Regions from separate parts of the Homo sapiens genome. Here region 2 is linked to region 1. The links come from fine-mapping of genetic effects on plasma protein levels. A gene starts in region 1. The other region holds a variant in brackets. All regions are shown on one strand. Distances are between the middles of the regions. Region 1 holds the start of ITGB7 (integrin subunit beta 7). Region 2 overlaps ZNF740 (zinc finger protein 740).

Region 1 (5,000 bases):
AACCTCCACTTCCCAGGTTCAAGCAATTCTCTTGCCTCAGCCTCCCGAGTAGCTGCAATTACAGGGGTGCACCACCACGCCCAGCTAATTTTTTTTATTTTTAGTAGAGACAGGTTTCGCCATGTTGGCCAGGCTGGTCTCGAACTCCTGACCTCAGGTGATCCGCCTGCCTTGGACTCCCAAAGTGCTGGGATTACAGGCGTGAGCCACTGCGTCTAGCTTGGTGTGGGTTCTTATGTTGGATCCTGTGGATCTCTGGGAGGGCATGAATGGACTTCAGAGGTCTGTAAGCCTGTCTCCACCTCCAGTTATGCATATGTGCATATCTGCTTTTCTCTGGGGAAGGAGTCCATTGAAGTTTTATTTATCTTTTTGTTTTTCATTTTTTTTCTTGAGACGGAATTTCACTCCTGTTGCCCAGTCTGGAGTGCAGTGGTGTGATCTTGGCTCACTGCAACTTCTGCCTCCCGGGTTCAAGCGATTCTCCTGCCTCAGCCTCCCAAGTAGCTGGGATTACAGGGGCGCACCACCATGCTCAGCTAATTTTTGTATTTTTAGTAGAGATGGGGTTTCACCATGTTGGCTAGGCTGGTCTCGAACTCCTGACCTCAAGTGATCCACCTACTTCAGCCTCCCAAAGTGTTGAGATTACAGGCGTGAGCCACCATGCCTGCCCTGAAGTTTCATTTAGTTCTCATGAGGGCTCCTGGCCCCAGAAGAGAAGAAGCCCGCATCTAAGCTACAGTGTTACTGTTTTACACCAGCCCCTCACCCAGGGAGCCCTCTGGCCTTCTGTCCCCAACCACCCTGCTATCACCTTATACCTTACTCCCCCCACCCTCTCTGTTCCCACTCTTCACCCCATGACCTCCACTCACTGCCACCTGCACTGTTACCTTCTTTCCGAATATCTGTCCTTGCTCCCACACGCCTTCCCTCTGCAACACGCCTTTGCAGTGCCTTTGGCCTCTACTGCTGCACCCTGTACTCTTCCCTTCGCCCTCTGTGACTCCCCTCAAGCCCCTCCTCCGTGTCCTACCTTCCCTGGGACAGTGCCTTGCCTACCTTGTTCCTGGCTCTCTTCATTGGTGACCTGTGGTTATGACAAAAAAGTTGAGGATGTGGGAGTAGGGGAGAGAAGAGTGGAGGGCGGAAAGCAGAAGAAGAAAGTGAAAGAAGCTCTAGAGGAAACCACAGGGCCTGTGGGGAAGGAGGGTCATTGCCGTGGTAACCCCTGGTTGTGGGGGAAGGGTATAGGTCCTGGCTATCCCATAGCCTGAGGCCAGCCAAGCCCACCCAGAGAAAGAGCCCCTCCTCTCCAATTGTCCCCTCCTAGCAGCTACACCTCTGCAATCCATCTGACATTTATTGAGCACCTACTATAAGATGGGCACTTGGCTAGGTGTGGTGGCTCCAGCAGGGAAGCCTTGTAGAGCCAGTCCCTGCCTACAAGGAGTGCTCCTTCTGGTAGGGGAGATCGACCTGTGAACACAGACCTCATGTCTAGTTCCCTCTCAAAGCTCTTAGTGATCTGTATGGGCCAGGAGCAAATCCCATTAATATTTTCCTGCTCTCCCTACGGGCTTCATCCTTGCCTTGGCTTCAGCTGTTGTTCCTGCACTCTCTGCTTCTCCCAGTTCACCTCCTCCACCCCTTTCCCAGGATCCACTACTGTGTTGGCTCCTGGTTCCCCAATCACATGCTCTGAGCCTGGCCCTATGCCTCTCTCTTCCAAGTTTCCAGTTGTGTGGACCTTGAATTTCTCAAAGCCTCTTCACTTCTCACCTCTGCTACTTCTCATCCCTACTAATTCTCTTATCAAGCCCTTACTTAGTATGTGCCAGGTAGTCTTGTAGGCAATTGATATGAATTATCTCTTTTAATTCTCACGACAATCCTGTGAGTCTTGCTGGACAGATGAGAAAACAGCTGCAGGCAGGTTTAAGTAACTCAGCTAAGCTCCTTACTACTAGTAAGTAGTAGAGCCAGGATTTGAACTCTAGCAACTTGGCTCCAGAGCCTATGTAGTCAAGCACACTTATATAATGTATCCTGGGTTTTCAAAATGAACAAGTCTGTAATTTCTGGCCTCTCTACAGTACTTACTGCCCCTATTCCCTCCTATCATGTTCCTTCCTATATAAGTAAATGGAGAGATCATGAATTTTGGAGGCAGGCAGACCTGGATTTAAATCCCAGACCAGCCGAGTGTGCCTGTAATCCCAGCTACTCAGGAGGCCAAAGTGGGAGGATTGCTTGAGTCCAGGAGTTACAGACCAGCCTGGGCAACACAGCAAGACCCTGTCTCAAAAATAAAAAACAGGCTGGGCATGGTGGCCCACACCTGTAATCCCAGCACTTTGGGAGGCCGAGGTGGGCAGATCAATTGAGGTCAAGAGTTTGAGACCAGCCTGGCCAACATGGTGAAACCCCGTCTCTATTAAGAATATAAAACGTTGCTGGGCATGGTAGTGCACCCCTGTAATCCCAGCTATTCGGGAGGCTGAGGCAGGAGAATCGCTTGAACCTGGGAGGCGGAGTTTGCAGTGAGCTGAGATTGTGCCATGGGACAGTGAGCTGAGATTGTGCCTGGGAAACAGAGCAAGACCCTGTCTCAAAAGTTAAATTAAATTAAAATAAAAAAAATAAAATAATAAAAATTTAAAATAAAAATCTTTTTTCTTTTTTTTTTTTAAATCCTAGACTAGCTACTTACTAGCTGTGGGACCTTGGGCAAAATTCTTTATTTCCTGCTTCCAAGCCTCAATCTCTGCATCTGTAAAATTGGGGCTTGGGGGAATATTAACCCCTATCTTATGAGATTGTTGTGAGGGTTAATTGTAATATGTTACGTTCAACACATGACAGGGGTTCAATAAATGGGCTTCTTTCTTCCAGATCTCTGTATTGTCCACTCCCTTGGCTCAGCCCCACCCCTATCTGCACCACCTTCTAGATCAGTCACCCCCACCAACCCCAAATCTTCCCCACCCTGGGGAGTGTCACTTCCTCCTCTGCCGTCTCCCAGATCAGTACACAAAGGCTGCTGCTGCCGCCAGAGGAAGGACTGCTCTGCACGCACCTGTGAGTACCAGGGCACCAGCCCTTCTGCCTCCTCTCCTTACAAGCTCTGGCCCACCTGGTCCCAACCTCTTGGGAAGAGGGCTCTGACCTGGATACCGAGGGTCCTGTCCAGACTTGAGAAAGGCTCTGAACTCCTTTCTGCATTCCTAAGATCCCCTGACCTGGTTCCCTCCTCCAGTTTCACAGTACCCCCACCTCCACCTCTCCAAAAGCCCAATCTCTCCTGCATCAGTTTCCCATGAGTGGGTCTGGAGGCAGGGATGTATATGAGTGCTGTCATCTGAGTGCCTGCCATGTGCCAAGGACTATACCGAAGTAGGGCAGGTATACCGATTATACTGAGGGAGGGTTCTTCCAACATCACCCCCAGCTGCTATCCCTAATGCTCTGCCTTCAGCTCAGACTTCTTCCTAATCGGCACCTTGGTCACAGACTCCACTGTCCTGGGACACTGAGGCCCAGCAGCTCAGTTCCGTCCCCTCCTTGTGACTCCCAGTGGGCAGCAGAGGGTTCTGCTTGATTTGGAAGGTAGGGATGGGTTTGGAAGAGGCTCTGTTTCTCAGCTGCTGAGGGGGGTCACAGGGTGTGTACTGGAGTCAGAATGGAGTCCAGAAAAATGGAAATAACCACTTGGTCCCAGAGAGAGAAGGGAAGACTGCAGAATACCCCTAAGGAAAGAGAAATGGGATTAGGCAGAGCCCACCAGGGCTAGTGGGGAGAGAACACAACTTTTGATGGAGATAGTGCCTGGGTTGGAGGGAGGAAAGGAGAAAGCACAGCAGAGGCCTGGCCCTGCCCTGTCCTGCCCTGCCCCTAGTTCACTGGGTGACCCTGGCCTCATGGAATTTAGGTTTCCATTTGTAAAAAGAGTGGGATGGAGTAGTAGATTCAGCCATTCTATAGTTAGGAACAGAGGGGAAAAGGAAGTAAAATAGCCCTATGAAGAAGTGGAGCAGAGAAAAGCAGCAGAGAGATGCAATAGAAGTTTTGAAATGAAAGGAGCCAGAGAGAGACAGAGAAGCAGACAGAGAAATAGGTGGCAGAACATGTATTCTCAAGGAGGGGAGAAGAGAGGATAATTGGAAAGAAAGGTAGGAAAGGGCTGTCCAGGAAGTCCCAGGGCCCCCTTTAAGGGGAGATGAGTGGGCCTAAGGTCTCTGAAAAACCTATGCGGCAGCCGGGGCTCCACTTGTGAGAGATGAGTCAAAACCCGGCTTTGGGTTGCAGCATCTCCAGCCTCCCTGACCACAGGCATGCAGAGCAAGCAGGGCTGAGGTTACGCTGAGGCTGAGCTGGGACTGGCCTCTCCCCGAGGGGTGGAGGCTCCGTTATATATGGCGCCTGAGGTCACAGGTGGTGGGGAGCAGGACCAGGACATTCAAGGACTCAACACCCCACCCCTTTCCCACACTCTGTGCAGAGTATCTGGACCTGACTCTGGGCCCAGGCTGAAGAAGATGCAAATGGTTTATGACAAGGAGTTAGTTGGCCTTTCTCATACATTGCTGATGGGAATGTGGACCAGTACAAGTCCTGAAGAGTTTATGTTGGCAATACCCACCTATATATATATATTTCTTAGCATGAGAATGTAGATGAAATACACACCAGTATTACAAATGATACCTATCTAGTTATCCTGCACGTCCTCTGCTAGGGATTTATCCTACAGATTCAGTTGCAGACGTGTGAAATGATAAATACATGACATTTGGCTGGGGGTGATGGCTCACGCCTGTAATCACGGCAATTTGGGAGGCCGAGGCAGGTGGGTCGCTTGAGCTCAGGAGTTCTAGACCAGCCTGGGCAACATGGGGAAGCCCCATCTCTGCAAAATAATACAAAAATAATTAGCCAGACATGGTAGCATGCGCCTGTAGTACCAGCTACTCGGGAGGCTGAGGTGGAAGGATCAA
Region 2 (5,518 bases), 17 kb after region 1:
CTATACTTAACATCCTTTCAGCTGTTTGTCTGTCTCCAACTCTTTTGAGAACTTGGGTTTAGAGGTTCCTGGGAGAGACAAGTCAGGGGTGATCAAACCCTCTGACCTACTTCTCTCCTTTGCCTTCCCCTTCCAGCTGTGCCCCTGGCCGCCTAGGTCGGCTCTGTGAGTGCTCTGTGGCAGAGCTGTCCTCCCCAGACCTGGAATCTGGGTGCCGGGCTCCCAATGGCACAGGGCCCCTGTGCAGTGGAAAGGGTCACTGTCAATGTGGACGCTGCAGCTGCAGTGGACAGAGCTCTGGGCATCTGTGCGAGTGTGACGATGCCAGCTGTGAGCGACATGAGGGCATCCTCTGCGGAGGTACCTGGAGCCTTGGGGAGAAGGGCGGGGTCTGAGAGGCCTTCCCAAGGCACTTAGGCTCTGGGAATCTCCTGGCATGGAAGGCAAATATCAAAAGATTCCGGTGTATGGGTTAGAGGGTGTGGTTGGCATACTTCAAAAAGATTGGATGCGTGGGCTTGTCGTGCCACATGATGGCCAACTGTGTGTGTGGAGTATGGTTGTCACCCTCTGCATGGCTCTACCCCAGGCTTTGGTCGCTGCCAATGTGGAGTATGTCACTGTCATGCCAACCGCACGGGCAGAGCATGCGAATGCAGTGGGGACATGGACAGTTGCATCAGTCCCGAGGGAGGGCTCTGCAGTGGGCATGGACGCTGCAAATGCAACCGCTGCCAGTGCTTGGAC[G/A]GCTACTATGGTGCTCTATGCGACCAATGCCCAGGCTGCAAGACACCATGCGAGAGACACCGGTGAGGCCTCAGGTCTTGCATCTTGGGAGCAGGGGCACAGTGGGGCTTGTTGAGCTACTCCCATCTGCCTACTCTCCGTCCTGCTTGTAGTTGGGCAAGGGGCATTGGGTGACAACTGCCCAGCTGGTAACCTATTGGCATCTACTACACAGGGACTGTGCAGAGTGTGGGGCCTTCAGGACTGGCCCACTGGCCACCAACTGCAGTACAGCTTGTGCCCATACCAATGTGACCCTGGCCTTGGCCCCTATCTTGGATGATGGCTGGTGCAAAGAGCGGACCCTGGACAACCAGCTGTTCTTCTTCTTGGTGGAGGATGACGCCAGAGGCACGGTCGTGCTCAGAGTGAGACCCCAAGAAAGTAAGTGGGCAGGGATGCCACAAACCCTGGAAGTTTGATGGGCAGGGTCTCAACTCTGGGGATGCAGAGTGAAGATAATGGGAAACAGGCTGGGGGCTGAAGCAGAACTGTGAATCCAGGACAAAGGCAGAGGCAATTGAGCAAGTGGACGAGGCTAAGGCCCTGGGCGGTGAGGATAACCTTGGACCTCCCTGGGTTCCCTTTGCTTTCAGTGACAGACAGGGTTGGACAGGCTGGACACACTGTGAGCAACTGATGATCTGTCCCTATGCTCCAGCTCCCACAAGTGTGTCTGGTTTCTTGTTCACAGAGGGAGCAGACCACACGCAGGCCATTGTGCTGGGCTGCGTAGGGGGCATCGTGGCAGTGGGGCTGGGGCTGGTCCTGGCTTACCGGCTCTCGGTGGAAATCTATGACCGCCGGGAATACAGTCGCTTTGAGAAGGAGCAGCAACAACTCAACTGGAAGCAGGTGAGGAGACTTCCTGGTTAGGCCCCTTTTTAGCTGTTCCCCCACCACAAGACCAGCCCTGATTCCTCCCACTGGGTTCCCCCAGCCCCTGGCACATGTAACCAACCCCTCTGCTAACTTCCATCAGCTCCTAGGATTCGGCTCAAGGCTGGCCTCTTAGGTCTAGAAAGGGGACGAGGAATCCTGGGATTTTTGCTTATAATCTGCAACATCTTTCTCCAGGACAGTAATCCTCTCTACAAAAGTGCCATCACGACCACCATCAATCCTCGCTTTCAAGAGGCAGACAGTCCCACTCTCTGAAGGAGGGAGGGACACTTACCCAAGGCTCTTCTCCTTGGAGGACAGTGGGAACTGGAGGGTGAGAGGAAGGGTGGGTCTGTAAGACCTTGGTAGGGGACTAATTCACTGGCGAGGTGCGGCCACCACCCTACTTCATTTTCAGAGTGACACCCAAGAGGGCTGCTTCCCATGCCTGCAACCTTGCATCCATCTGGGCTACCCCACCCAAGTATACAATAAAGTCTTACCTCAGACCACAGCTGTCACTTTGCTTTACCTCATCAAGGCCAAAGCAGACTGTTTATAGCCTGGGCCTCGGGAAAGCTCTTGTCCATCCTCCTCTTGCCACCTGAGGGCAGGGAGAGGTGCCCAAGCGCGAATGTGCAGGAAACTCCCGGGGTGCACCCTGGGACCCAGGAAGCCAGGTCTGGAAAGGGCCTATGAATTCTCAAGTGCTGCGGATGCAGGGGGGTCCCAGGTCAGAGACACTGCATCTGTTGGTGTCTAGCCTCCTTCCGTCCTGCTGCGTGTGCTTTTTCGTCTTGCTCAGAACTGATGCCCTGTTTTTGCTCCTACTTGCTTGTTCCTCTGTGGAGAAGGGGTTTTAAAATGGCTTATAGGGTGCTGGAAGTTGTGGGGTGATTATGTAGGGAGAAAAAAGGAAAACAACTAAAACCAGTATGAAAAAGCTTCCCCAAAGAGGAGATAGTATGTAGAAAAGCCCCATTTTCCTTTTATTTAAATATCCTAAATATATCACGAAGGAACATACACTGCACTTTAATGGTAAAAAGATACAAGTTTATAACATCTTATAAAAACTACCATTTAAAAGTGATCTTGTCCATTTGATATTCCCCTCCCCCATAGCAAAATATTATTTAAAAAAAAAAAAAACAAAAAACAGGGTGGAGAGGAGGATAGGAAGGGGACAGTTGATAAAACCCCAGGGCCACAGCAGAGGCAAAGGGCATCTGGGGAGAGGGTTCGAAGCTGTGGCGGACTCCACTAATGTAACCCTCCAATGTCAAGCCATGGGCGTGATCAGTAGCTAAGTGATGACAAGGCTGTTGGGGGTGGACGGAAAAGACTTGGGGCAAAGCAGACTGTTTATAGCCTGAGCTGGTAGGGCCTGGTGCAGCAGCCTACCCGGAACTGGCACTACTCTTTCCCAGGTTCCCTGACTCTCTATCCTGGTCTCTGAGAGCGTGCCCTACTTCCGTTTCCCCCACTCCAAACACACCTGAGGCATCTTCCAGTGCTAGGCCCCATGCTGGCCAGCAGGGGTCGGGCATTGGGCCCAGGAGCCTCTGCAGCGGTGTGAGTCAGTGGCTTCCCTGGGGTATCCGTGGGGCTCCCGGGCCCTCTGGATGCCAAATCACTCCTTTCACTGCTTTGCGCCTCTCTTCTCACACATGCACTGCCCCAGACATCAGCGCGGGAACTGAACCAACCACCTGCTCCTGAGTTTCCCTCACTGGGTCCTTGGCAGGGGTGGCTCTGCTATGGCTGTTCGCACATACTCTCTGAAGTTCCCTCCCTCCCACCCACCCAGGCAGGAAACCAAGGTCTGTGGGAACCCAGGGCACCTTCTGACCCAGTACACACATTAGTACACATAGGGGCACAGGTCACTCATGTGAGACTTACATGAATCTCTCCACATACACCCCTATCCCAAAGAGACTAGCTGTAAGTGGCAGGGACAGAGGGCTCTCATTTTCAAAAGCATTTTTGGGAGGATAGTTTTCTAAATATTTTAAAATGGTTTACAGGGTACTGGAAGATGTGGGGTGAATCATCCCAGAAGTGAAGGACAGGAAAAGCCCAGATCCAGCAGAACCCTTGAACAGGAAGGGGGCTGGCTCACATGCAGAAAGATGCCCCTGCTTGCAGGGACCACAGGGCTGATCCAAGGACTGAGGTCTAAGTTCTGGACCACATCAAATGGGAGTGTCAGCATAGAGCTGTAAGAGTACATGGCAGCAAACACTCCTCAGCGTCTCCCCAAAAGGATCTCAGATGCTGTCAGGGAAAATCGAATGGGTGCCATGCCTGCTTTCTTTTTCCCTGAAATACTCATACCACAGAGGTATGGACAACCCCCTCCCCAACCCCACCCCTCCAGAATAGGTAACAGCCAGGAATCATTGCTGGTATCCATTCTTTACATTTTCTGGGAAATGAAATCATACTTTCAGGAGTTTCCCATCTCAGACCCTACTGACAGCTTGGCACTCAGGTTCAGCCAGTCTCCATGATTACTAAGACAGTTCCCGTACCCGCCACAGGTCAGGTCAGGTTACAGTGGGGGTCAACCAAACCCCAAAACTTCCCATAAGGATTCTTTCTTTAGCAGAAAGAAAAGGTTTATTTCACCTTAGAAAATTCATGTTCACAAGCCCTGGCTTGGGTTAGAAACATCCTAACCACCAGGCTGTTGAATTCATCTTAAAAAAAAAAACCCTCCAAAACAAAAGCCCTTCTGTTCCCCAAATTGTGTTCTTCAGCTCCTGCTGAGACCTCAAGCACCCTTCATGTTTGGGCAAGAGGAGGCTATTTTCCACTCATCCTCCCTGAAGGTGAGGGCCAGAGAAGGGTTTGGCTCAATAATATGCCATCTCCTGCAAGCATACAAATACATGCATTCATATCTCACACACACTCTCTCTCACACACACACACACACCCGATTACTTTTTTGGGAGTGGACAAGGTGGTGGTATTGGAGCAGAGAGGAGCAAAGAATATGGTTAAGAATGGAACCTACATTAGGTTTCTTCTTTAGTCTTTTCTCTGCAGCACCCCCACCCCCATCCCCCACACTCTGTTGGGTAGGGATGGCCATCAGGAAGCAAGCCGAGATCTTGTTTTTTGGGACCAAAGGACAGACCCCTCCCTACCTCCTCTACCTGAATACAGTGATAGGACTTGGGGAGGGAGAACAGCTCCTACTGCTCAACAGGCATGTCAGAAGACCCCAGATTCCTTTGTTTCTTGAGCAGCTGTTAGCCAACTTGGGACCAGTCTTGGGTTGTTCCTAAGAGGGCACAAGGAGAGAGAACCCACTTTGACTTCCATGACTCCTTGCTCAACACATCTGTCTCACTTTAGGAGTCAATGGCAGCGAGGTAGCCACATACCATCTCCAAGACCGACTCCCCAAAAAAAGAAGAAAAGGGCTTCATGGGCCACTCTCACCCAAGTTTCCTCCTAAAGGCATTTGAGCTGATGCCATCAGGTGCCAATGTGACATGGGCCATGACAACACCCACTGGCACAACTCTTCCTTTTCCCTTGAGGAAGGAAGAGGTGCCATCCACTTTTTGGATCCAGCCCTTGTCTGCTCCACCCCGTTTTTCCTTTTGTCCCTACAGTGTATAAGGAAGCCAAAGTAAGCTCAGCTGCCATTCCTGACCTTATTCTTCCTCAAAAAGGAGGCGAAGTGCAGGATTGTGAAACACTGAGGAGCTACTGCAACTAAAAACCCAATTTTTGGGGAGAGCTGGACCAGCTATAGTCCCTACTTTGGACCAGGACTCTTATGCCTCTGGATTACCTGTATCCACAGTTTACCCGCTGAAGTTGCTTTTGG

Evidence for each region. PIP is the chance, under the fine-mapping model, that this variant and not a neighbour inherited with it causes the effect. The UK Biobank Pharma Proteomics Project read protein levels with antibody pairs (Olink). The fine-mapping took linkage between variants from a reference panel, not from the people measured, so its PIPs are less certain.
Region 2: its variant is fine-mapped to the plasma level of the ITGB7 protein (UK Biobank, PIP above 0.99). The variant lies in the coding sequence of ITGB7. If it changes the protein, the assay may bind it differently, which can mimic a change of level.

Annotation. Positions count from the first base shown.
Region 1 is chr12:53,205,286-53,210,285 of GRCh38, reverse strand. It overlaps ITGB7 (integrin subunit beta 7), which reads left to right and starts at 3,035. Exons shown (of 16, transcript NM_000889.3): 1 at 3,035-3,084. RefSeq lists an enhancer at 4,906-4,995.
Region 2 is chr12:53,187,982-53,193,499 of GRCh38, reverse strand. It overlaps ZNF740 (zinc finger protein 740), which reads right to left. Exons shown (of 7, transcript NM_001004304.4): 7 at 1-5,518. It overlaps ITGB7 (integrin subunit beta 7), which reads left to right. Exons shown (of 16, transcript NM_000889.3): 12 at 137-360; 13 at 590-809; 14 at 962-1,170; 15 at 1,481-1,641; 16 at 1,864-2,177. The coding sequence ends at 1,944. Among named protein-coding and RNA genes, the nearest start is that of CSAD, 9.8 kb to the right of the region's middle. RefSeq lists a silencer at 3,121-3,415. The variant G/A (reference allele first, on the strand shown) is at 748.